Regions from separate parts of the Homo sapiens genome. Here region 2 is linked to region 1. Evidence: fine-mapped expression QTL. Tissue or cell type: whole blood. Region 1 holds a variant in brackets; the other region holds the start of a gene. All regions are shown on one strand. Distances are from middle to middle.

Region 1 (5,225 bases):
ATTATGGCACAGCAAGAGGCTCTCACCAGAAGCTGAGCAGATGCTGGTGCCATGCTTCTTGGACTTTCCAGTCACCAGAATCGTGAGCCAAATAAATCTCTTTTCTTTATAAATTACCTAGTCTCAGGTATTCTGTTATGGCAACACTAAATGGACTATGAGAGTAGGTGTAAGTTTAACTTCATAAGAATCTGCCAGACAATTCTCCCAGGTGGTCACACCATTTGACACTCCCAGGAGCACTCCATAAGAGTTCTGTTGCCGTCCATTCTCACCATCATTTGATGTTCTCAGCCTTTCTTGTTTTAGCTATTCTAGTGGGTGTGAAACACTATTGTGGTTTTACAGTTTATATTTCTTTTGAAAATTACTGTATAATAATCAGGTGGACTGTGGTGAGATACCTCATGTCCCAGCTAAAACAGAAGCCCAGTTTATTGATTCTGGGGGCAAGACAGACTGCCCGTTATGAGGAGGCTCTCTGTAATATCACACTTCATTCCACTTTCTATTTTGCATTTGCACCTCATTCATTAGTCATTTTACACATTTCTTTCCACACTTCTTTTGGTTGGATCTCAAAATAACCTGAGGAACCTGAGGGGTAGACACAGTTAATTTCCCTGCTGCCTACAGAATGTTTTCATATGTGGCTTCAGCAGGCAAAACAGGGTGGAAATGTGCAGCCCTTATCTCTCACAGATGGGTGTTTTAAATGTAAAATTACCTATTAACATTCATAAATCTATGGAAAGACAAGACAGATCTTTACTCAGTGAGGTCTGTGTGCTTTGACAAGTTGCCTTATCTCACCCTCACAACATGGGGGGAAGGAGGAATGACTATTGTTATTTTACAGCTGAGAAGGTTGCAAATTAACCGCTCAATGTTCCCTAATAAAGGGGCAGATCTGTGATCTGGACACAGTTTCCTGCCTTGAAAGAATCCCATAGTTTTTCTACAACATTGCAGATGCCTTCATATAAAAAACATTTGAGGCTGGGTGTGGTGGCTCACGCCTGTAATCCTGGCACTTTGGGAGGCTGAGGTGGGCAGATCACCTGAGGTCGATTGTTTGAGACCAGTCTGACCAACATGGAGAAACCCTGTCTCTACTGAAAATACAAAATTAGCTGGGCATGGTGGGCTTGTAATCCCAGCTACTTGAGAAGCTGAGACAGGAGAATCGCTTGAACCCAGGAGGCGGAGGTTGCGGTGAGCCAAGATCGTGCCATTGCACTCCAGCCTGGGCAACAAGAGCAAAACTCTGTCTCAAAAAACAAACAAACAAAACATTTGAGCCTGATGTTTAACCCCCACCTGCCACCAAAAGAAAACCCTTCACTATTTAATAGTTATTGACACTGTTGTAAAAGCCACACTGGGGACCTTTGAAGGGATTGGGTTACTGACTGATGTTTCATAAAGGCCCCTAATCATTTTTGTGGTATCTATAGATAGACAATTTTTTTTGGAAATGGACTCAATGGGAGTAAGTCAAAGGCCATAATACCTATCAGCTCAGCAGGACAAATTTAAGACTCATGGAACACAAGTTACCCAACAAAAACAAAAAACAAGAAGCAAAAACAAATCCAATAATTATTTAAGGTTCCAGGTGGCTTCTGGAGGTTGTAAAAGCCAAAAAAGGAGCAATGTATCTGCTTCCACAACCAGCATTCACCCAGAGTGGTTAACAAAGCGTCCTGTGTAACACACTGGAAATGCACATCTGCTTGTCGTATGTGACTCATGATCACCCAGAAGCCCATGGGTTTTGAAGATAATAGTTTGTTTGGTATTTTCAGGAAAGCAAACAGATTTTCCAAAAGCTAGAAGAGGATGCATAAAGCAGTAGGCTAGTAGGCTAGAAGGCTCTCCCTAAAGCCTTATAGATGGGTAGATATATAGATGGGTAGAATATAATATAGATGGGTAGAATACTGTACCATTAACTCACATAATCATTATCAGCAGGGCCACTTGAACCTTTAGAAATTATACAAAGAGAGAAACAGGCTGCCTGGTGAAAGTGGTAATAACATCAGGCATGACATGGTAATCTTGTGATATCAAAAAAGAAAGGAGAGGGTGCATTGTGGAGCACTTAAAAACAAGATTTGTGTGGTAGAGGTGAACATGAACTGAGCTCTCAGACACCCGTGGTTTGCACACTGTGGGCAGCTGAAGC[T/C]ATCACTGCTTACAGATGTGGTCACGGATGGCCACATCAGTTATTCCTCAGTTCCTGGGTAATTGTACATGACTCAAAACACAGGATGTTTGTGGTCAAGCCATGGAAAAATACTCCCTACAGGAGTTCTCTGGGTCTAGTTTGAACCTACCTGATGTTTCTCAGCAAAGTAGAGAGGACTGATGGTAGATATTTTTATCTTGTTTTTTGGACAATTAGGTTCAAGGTAACACCTGTCTGTTTTTTTGTAGCCTGGGCCCACTGTGCTCAGGTCCTGCTGTAGATAATGAGGGGTTTGGGCTGGCTGGTGCCTCTCACAGCTTTCTCCACCCCTGCTGAGGCTCTGGCTTTCTATGGTTGCACTTTGGTTTGAGAAGGTCTCCAGGCTCTGCCTTTGCTCTTATTTCTGATGCCCTTCTCCTTGTCTGCCCCACCACCAAGCAGCTGCTCTCATGGGTGCCCCACTTCACTGTATCTGCCTTGCCCCTTCAGATGGGCTGTGGGTTCTTATGGTGCAACTGGCTCTTGAGCCACTTTGGAAAAGATGCTGACTCCTGAGATTGGTGCAACACGGATTTATGGAGGGCCTGGAATGTGTCGGAAGCTGTGGTGGGAATAGAAAGAGCAATAAGACAAGATTCCTGACTGGGAGGAGTTTAGTAAGATGCAGACGTGGAGACAGATAAATCCATGTTGTGTGAAGAATGCAAACCACCCACAAGTGCACTCCTGGGGTAGTGGCTTTGGTCTGGGTAGTTGTTCCCCTGCTTCTGGGGACAAAGGAAGGTCAAGTTAGGGCAAAGCCTGGGTTGGACTCAGAGAGGTGCAGCAGTGAAGGGGTCGAGGGGGAAACTAGCCCCAGGAGATTTTCCTCTAGCACTCACAGGAGAAGCAAGGGCAGAGGCTCTGACCCAAAACTCAGTCACCTTGAGGCCCCTCTCTCAGCTTCTTTCTCACCTCCAAGGCTAAGAAAGCAGGAGCAGCACATAGAGCTCTTCCAGTGATCATGAGCGGCACACACCATTGGCACAGATGGGGCCTCCTGCACAGCCTGAGAAGGGCCAGACTCTGCCCAGAGTCTCCCCTTAGTATTCCTACCAGCTGCGGTCCACTCTCCTGCCTCCAACCTCACCACATGCCATTGGAATTCCTTCCATGAGTGACTTGCTGCATCCTACCAATCATTTCTGGAGCCACAGTCTAATCTCTTTGTTTGAACAAGTGTTGTGTCTTTCTTTCCTTTCTTTCTTTTTTTTTTTGAGATGGAGTCTTGCTGTGTTGCCCAGGCTGGAGTGCAGTGGCACAATATTGGCTCACCACAACCTCCACCTCCCGGGTTCAAGCGATTCTCCTGCCTCAGCCTCCTGAGTAGCTGGGACTACAGGTGCCTGCCACCACGCCCGGCTAATTTTTTGTATTTTTAGTAGAGATGGGGTTTCACCATATTGGCCAGGCTGGTCTCAAACTCCTGACCTTATAATCTTCCCACCTCGGCCTCTGAAAGTGCTGGGATTACAGTCATGAGCCACCGCGCCCGGCCCGTGTTGTGTCTTTTCTAACCCTGCATGCCTGCCTTGACCTAGAACCCTGCAGGAAACATTTAAAGAGCGCTCACTACCTGCCAGGCACTGTGCTACCTCACACTGTCCTCACAACACCCCGATGAGGACAGTCTTACCACTTCCACTTTACAGATGAGCAACTGGGTCACAAAGAGGTGAAGTGACTTGCCCATGGTCAAAGTAAGTGGGGGAACCAGATTCAAATCCATGCAGGCCAACTCCAGGTCATTATCCTTAATGGGGCTATGCTGCCAGCAATACAAGCTGCCTACAAACACTTAGCAAATGAGAGAGAATAAAGAATGAGGGCTGGGAGTGGTGGCTCACACCTGTAATCCCAGCACTTTGGGTGGCCGAGGCGGGTGGATCACTTGAGGCCAGGAGTTCAAGACCAGGCTGGCCAACATAGTGAAACCCAATCTCTACTAAAAATACAAAAAATTAGTTGGGTGTGGTGGCAGGCGCCTGTAATCCCAGCTACTCAAGAAGCTGAGGCAGGAGAATCGCTTGAACCTGGGAGGTGGAGGTTACAGTGAGCTGAGAGCCGAGATCACGCCACTGCACTCCAGCCTGGGTGACAGAGCAAGACTCTGCCTAAAAAAAAAAGAAAAAAAAAGAATGGGTCAGACAAACAGGTAGGGGCACAGGACTGGCTTCCTTGGGCTAGCCCTTGAAATTTAGGGTCCACATAGAGGTTCAGAGGATCAAGATGAAGCTGCCCAGAGATCAGAGTTCTCAGGCAGTCCAGCCCAACCTAAATTTATCCCCAAAGATATTTCTGCCGCCAAGTCCACTCACTCCGCTAGAAACAGTGCAAAGTTAGAGGGCTTGACACTGCTAAACACCTCTCAACGGCAGTTATTGCCCTTTAATCTCAGCACTAAATCCATGTCCTTCTTGATGCTGTTTATAGCACGTTTAACAATTTGATTAGTTTTAGAAATCAACCCAGCTGATGTTACAGTTAGCAGAATTAATCAGAGCTTCTAAGCAGCATTCCACCATGACTGAGGTGATAAACAAATCCCCCTGTCTTCTAAACCCCAAGCCCACTCCATTTCTAAATCCTTTTGTGGCTGTTTTCAACATTCTGATTGTACAGTTGTGACAGTGGAATCATAAAAATGTCTCAATGGATACACACACACACACACTATATATATATGTGCATGTATACATATATATATGCATGTATACATATATATATGCATGTATACATATATATGCATGTATATATATATATGCATGTATACATATATATGCATGTATATATATATATGCATGTATACATATATATGCATGTATATATATATATGCATGTATACATATATATGCATGTATATATATATATGCATGTATACATATATATATATATGCATGTATACATATATATATATATGCATGTATACATATATATATATATATATTTTTTTTTTTTTTGAGATGGAGTCTCACTCTGTCACCCAGGCTGG
Region 2 (5,225 bases), 39 kb after region 1:
TCTGTCTCAAAAATTTAAAAAAAGAGTGTGCAGAACAACACAGCTGAAGAACACATTCTTAGATACATCAAAATGGGATAATCCAGTTGATACCATTTTATAACCTTGGCAACATGAGGATAATGGTTCATCCTTTCATGTCATTTTCTAGTCTGTGCTATGTAATTTCAAGTGCCTTTTCACTGAATAGACCTATTAAAATTGATACAAGCAGCTGGCTATTGTTGGACGTGTTCTATTTTTAATAAGAAAAACTGGAAGCAACTTAAATGTCCAACAACTGGGGACTGGTTAAAGCCATACAATGGGATGATCCCATTTTTGGTTTGTGCACATGAGCGTGCATACATACACATTAAGAAGACTGCATCAAAGTGAATAAGGCAGTTTGCTTATAGATAATTTTTTTCCATTTTGGTTATATTTATTGCCACTTTTTCTACAATAACTATATGCTACTTAAAACATCTTAATTATTAACTTCCTTCCCCCATATTGATAGCCAGGGAGAACACCCAGAAGAGTGTGTGTGTGCACATGCAAGGCGTGCAACCATCATAGATGAAATGGCAGCATCTGAGGTGAGCCCTAGGGCTAACAGGTCTGACTCCAAGTCATGCAAATCTGTGGGGATGTGGGGGAGGAGATGGGGGAGACTCATCAGCGCTACCAGTTACACATTCCAGACAACAGCCAGTAGCTCCTCATTTGAATCGGAAACAGAATGAACACCCACACTCACCCAGGGAGTGTGAATATATCATTTGATCTGTCTGCTCACATTTTTGGCAAGAGACAATGGTGGCAAGATTGGGGTCACTGACCCAGACTCTGGTATCTGAGTGGTTCTTAGAAAGCAACCAAATGGAGGTTTTCAAAAGGCTATGATCCCAATGTAACCAGTGTTTCACTCTTGGAAATGGGGGAGTTGGTGGGGATACCAAAGTCACACAAACACACGACACCAAGACACAAACTTTCCTTTACTTTTCATCTCTGCAGTGACACCAAATTCATTTTTACTCTGCTGAGTCTTTCTTTGTTAAGAGACTTCATGGATTTATAAAACAAATCCACTGTGCCAGGGCTCTGGCTTTCTGTATCCTTTCAGGACAGTCTCCAGGAATTTCTCAAAGGCCTTTGCCACTTAGATCCTCAAGACTACAGGCAACTACTCCAACCACAAAAGCTCTCAGTTCAGCCTGATGTACCCTCAAAGGGCCAGTTCCTGAGACCATAGGGAGGAACTTAAGAAAGCGAAAGGGAAAGTTCCTAGGTTTCTACGTATTTATGTATTGAACCATGAGACAGGGCTCAGCCAGTCAAGGACTTCCTGGAAGGGACTCCATTGGAGTTACTGGACCAAAATGGCAGCCTTCCCAGATCACAGGGAGAAATGAGACCAGGAACAGAGGCTCTCATTATTAGCAATGCCTTGATTAACACCCTGTTCTGACTGGAAGAGTTCCCCACTGTTGTCACAGAAAGCCAAAAACATCTCAGATAATTCCCAGAGTTTCAATACTGTTCCAAGACTGGTAGGCACGCATTTTTCTCAGCACACATATACACATATTTTCACTTCCTTTTTATTCTTAAACTAATTCTTTTTCTTCAAAGGGAATCTTGGAAATTCAGTCCTAAGAAATTATAGTAAATATTCATCAGCCAGGCACAGTGGCTCACATCTGTAATCCCAGCACTTTGGGAGGCCCAGGTGGGAGGATCACTTGAGCTCAGGAGCTCGAGACCAGCCTGGGCAACACAGTGAAACCCTGTCTCTACTTTAATATATATAATTTATATATATATTTATAAATCCATGCCATGGTTTAAATGAAGTTTTAAATTTTCTATCTACTATGCAGCAATATGTCACCTGATGTTGGAGAATGAACCAGGAAGTATTCCTGGAGCTTATATTGATATTTTAGAAGCTCCTGTCTTGTATTTGTAAAGACGGCAGTCACCGGGACGCCCAAATTCAACCTCACTTGCGTCCTTTTATTCCTTTATCTAATTTACACCTGCCAAACACAAATCCACCCTAGATGCAGCAAGGGGAATCAAACCCACATGGCTTCCTGGAGAGCTCTATTTAAAAAACACAAAACCTGTACTAATCTCGCGAAACCTGTACTAGCCTCACATCAAGTTCTTACATGAAGAAACCAGGTTATTTACTACGTTCTAATACATCCAGGGCCCACAGGGCATTTCCTGGCTGGCACAGGTCACTGGGACGTGTTGGTCCCTTCCCCCAACCGAAACAACTCGAAATTCACACATATCCCCGGAACAACAGCCTCCTGCCCTCAAAGTCCACTGCCAAAAAGTGCGAGGGGCGCGGGAATGTCCAGTCTCTGCGGTGGCGCAGATGCCTGGCGGCTTTCTCTGGGACCCCCTAAAAGAAATCCGGGCGCTTTCATTTTTGCACCAACGCTCTTCAACTTTAGGAGAGGGGGAATGCAGCGTGCGGACGGGAAAAAGGGGATCTAGTGGGAAATGCGGACGTGAAAGCACTTTTTTTGCACCTTCTCTCTGGACCAGGCGAGGAGGTAGAGGGCGAGCCTGGAGAGGAAAGATCTCTTCCCACACCCTGCCTGGGTGCTTTCAAGAATCCCGGCAAAGACCCTGGGGCGCACGGCGCGCCACCTTGGACATGTCGCCTGGGATCGGCTACCGGGAGCTCCTTTTCCCGCCTTCTCGGCCAGCACCGGGCTCATCCTCCCGGACCGGGAGGCTCCCCGATCGGGGACACTCTCACGTGCCGAGGGCAAGGTTGACTCCAGGAGGGCAAGGCCCACGCGCCCGACGCGGCGCGCGCAGGAACCGAACAGTCCGGGGGTCCCGGAGCCACCCGCGCATTTTGACTACGCCGTCCCCGCCCTCTCTCCGCACCCTCCGCACCCTCCGCACCCTGCGTCCCTCGGCCGCATCTCCGCCGGGCGTCCGCTGGCTGGCTAGCTCACCACTCCACGCCATCCGCCTCCAAAGCCCGGCACTCACCTGCCCCGCGCGGCAGGCGCGCCGCACCCAGCAGCAGAACCCCTAGCAGTGCGATAGAGACCCCGCAGTTCAGGCCGGCCATGACTCCGGGACGCCTCGGCCTCGGTGGGGAAAACGACGGTGGGGAGCGGCGGCCCCAGGCGCCCAAGCCCGGCGCAGCTGCGCTCCGCCCTGGCTCACTCACCTGCGCGCGGGCGGACCGGCCCGAGCCCCGCCCTGCGCAGCAGGATCGCGAGCTGACCCGGTGCGTCCCTCCTCTCTCTCCTCCTCCTCTTCCTGCCTCAGCGACCGCCTCTCCCTCCCAGGGTGCAGGGCTCCCGGCACCGGGTTGCTGGGTCCCTACTACTCCCCATTGCGGCGTTGGAGCGGACTTGTCCCCACCTTTCCGGGCTTAGTCTTCCTTCCCAAGTCTGAGAATGATGAGGTCTTTTTCTCCAGAGTCGCGAAGGTCGCCCATAGAGGAAGCCAGTCTACCTTCCCTTTTCTGTCGAGGAGACAAAGGCCATTATGCGCCTCGTTTTGGAGAAGAATCCTATTTGTGGGCCACCCAAGCCCTGGATCCTCTGCTACTTGACTTGGGCCAGAGGTCTGTTGGACTTTAAAGCCGGTGGTGGTACAGCTAGTATTTGCAGGACGGTGAGCCTGCAGCCTACTCCACACACATCACCTGCAGTATTTCCAGACACGCAACGTGTCCAAGGTCCCCAGGGTAGCTAGTAAATTAGAGGCAGATGCACCACTTCGTTGAATTGTGAGTAGAGTAGTATGCATCCCTTCACTGAGCTGTGGATGGAGTAGTATGTGCCCTTCTCGAGTTGTATTATAAATGGAGTAGTGTGTGCAGTGTGAGCGTGAAGCATTCAGGTCAAACGTTGGGCTGGAAAATGAATGAAAAATGAATGGCGCTGGACTCCTTTTCCAAATCCTCCCAGCCGCAGGTGTGCCACCTGCCTGTCTTCAGAGGCCCTGTGGGTTCTCCTTCCACCCTGCCGGCCATACACCAAGTCCAGGCCACAGGCAGAGATTGCGGATGGTTCAGGAGTTCTTAGCTAGCAGACCTGGGTTCTGCCAGAATGACTCCCTGGGACTACTTGTGTTCATGGATAGCCAGAAGCTGGGCCAGAGTCACCCGGAGCAACCTGGGAGGCTTGGGACAGGAACCAAAGCATGTGCGACAGCATCAGTTTACAGTCCAGTCCCAACTTCTGCTTAATTCTTGCGGGCACTGAGCCTCTCCAGGCTGCCCCAATCCTCCTTGTGGACAGGGGTGGGAAATCATCTCCTAGGAGCGTCACCCCTTCCTTCTCGATGTCCTTAATCATGAGAATAGAGCTAGCTCTGCCCTCTGGGAGCCCACAGTCCATCGAGGGAGGCAGAACTTGGAACATGACCCTGCCCACACCCCCACCTCTGGGAGGGCCTGTATCGTGAGCTAAACGGGACCTTAGATGTAATCTTCTAGTCCACTTCTGTCCTTGTGCAGAAAAATGGGAAAACTGAGAACTAGAGGGAAGGGAGAGGATGAGAAACGAAGAGAGGCTCTTGGTTCTCCCCACTGAATCGAGGACAAATTCATCAAGAGAAAGAAATCTTGACAAAAATCTAAACAATCTTTAAAAATATTTATGCTGACCAGGAGGGTGAAAGGAGATTTGTCTTTTCTCCTGATTCTAAGCAGGCATATATATCCCAGCATCTTTTCCTAACATCCATGACACCATTGTTTCCCACATACAGTAATACCCACAACAGTACTAGAATGGCAGTGTATTGAATGCAAAATATCAGAAATATTGCTTGACAAGTTAAGCCTAAGGAACAAGTTATTTCCTTACTATTTCGTCTCTCCAAAGTTTGCTTAACTGTCTTTCTTGGGATAGTTGACACCAGCTTTCTGAAAATGGAATGAGAGTCACTAATTCCCAAATATGAAGCATTGGTGGTGGTTCCAGAAAGTAGCAGCAACGAGAAAGAAGAAAATAGGGAGGCACTTCAGCATCCTTTGCGTGACAACCCAACTACATAGTTGAAGTAAAGATGTCCTGACATACTGTCCTGGTCCTCCAAGTGGAGTGTGAACAAAGCATTGCCAAGAATGGACATGTTTTGTCTTTACAAACATGGCTGAATGGAAGGAGTAAATTTTAAAAGGTTATTTCTGAACTGGAAAGCAACGTAGGTAACTATAATCTAGTGCTAGAGAGAAATGAGAGATT

Evidence for each region. PIP is the estimated chance that this variant, and not a neighbour inherited with it, causes the effect.
Region 2: CDCP1 starts here. The variant in region 1 is fine-mapped to the expression of CDCP1 in whole blood (TOPMed, PIP above 0.99). The same link has a PIP of 0.9 or more in T cells and blood mononuclear cells.

What each region holds. Positions count from the first base shown.
Region 1 is chr3:45,103,775-45,108,999 of GRCh38, forward strand. The region is part of intron 4 of CDCP1 (CUB domain containing protein 1); the gene reads right to left. Among named protein-coding and RNA genes, the nearest start is that of CDCP1, 40 kb to the right of the region's middle. The variant T/C (reference allele first, on the strand shown) is at 2,192.
Region 2 is chr3:45,143,197-45,148,421 of GRCh38, forward strand. CDCP1 (CUB domain containing protein 1) reads right to left here and starts at 3,182. Exons shown (of 9, transcript NM_022842.5): 1 at 3,010-3,182. The coding sequence starts at 3,091.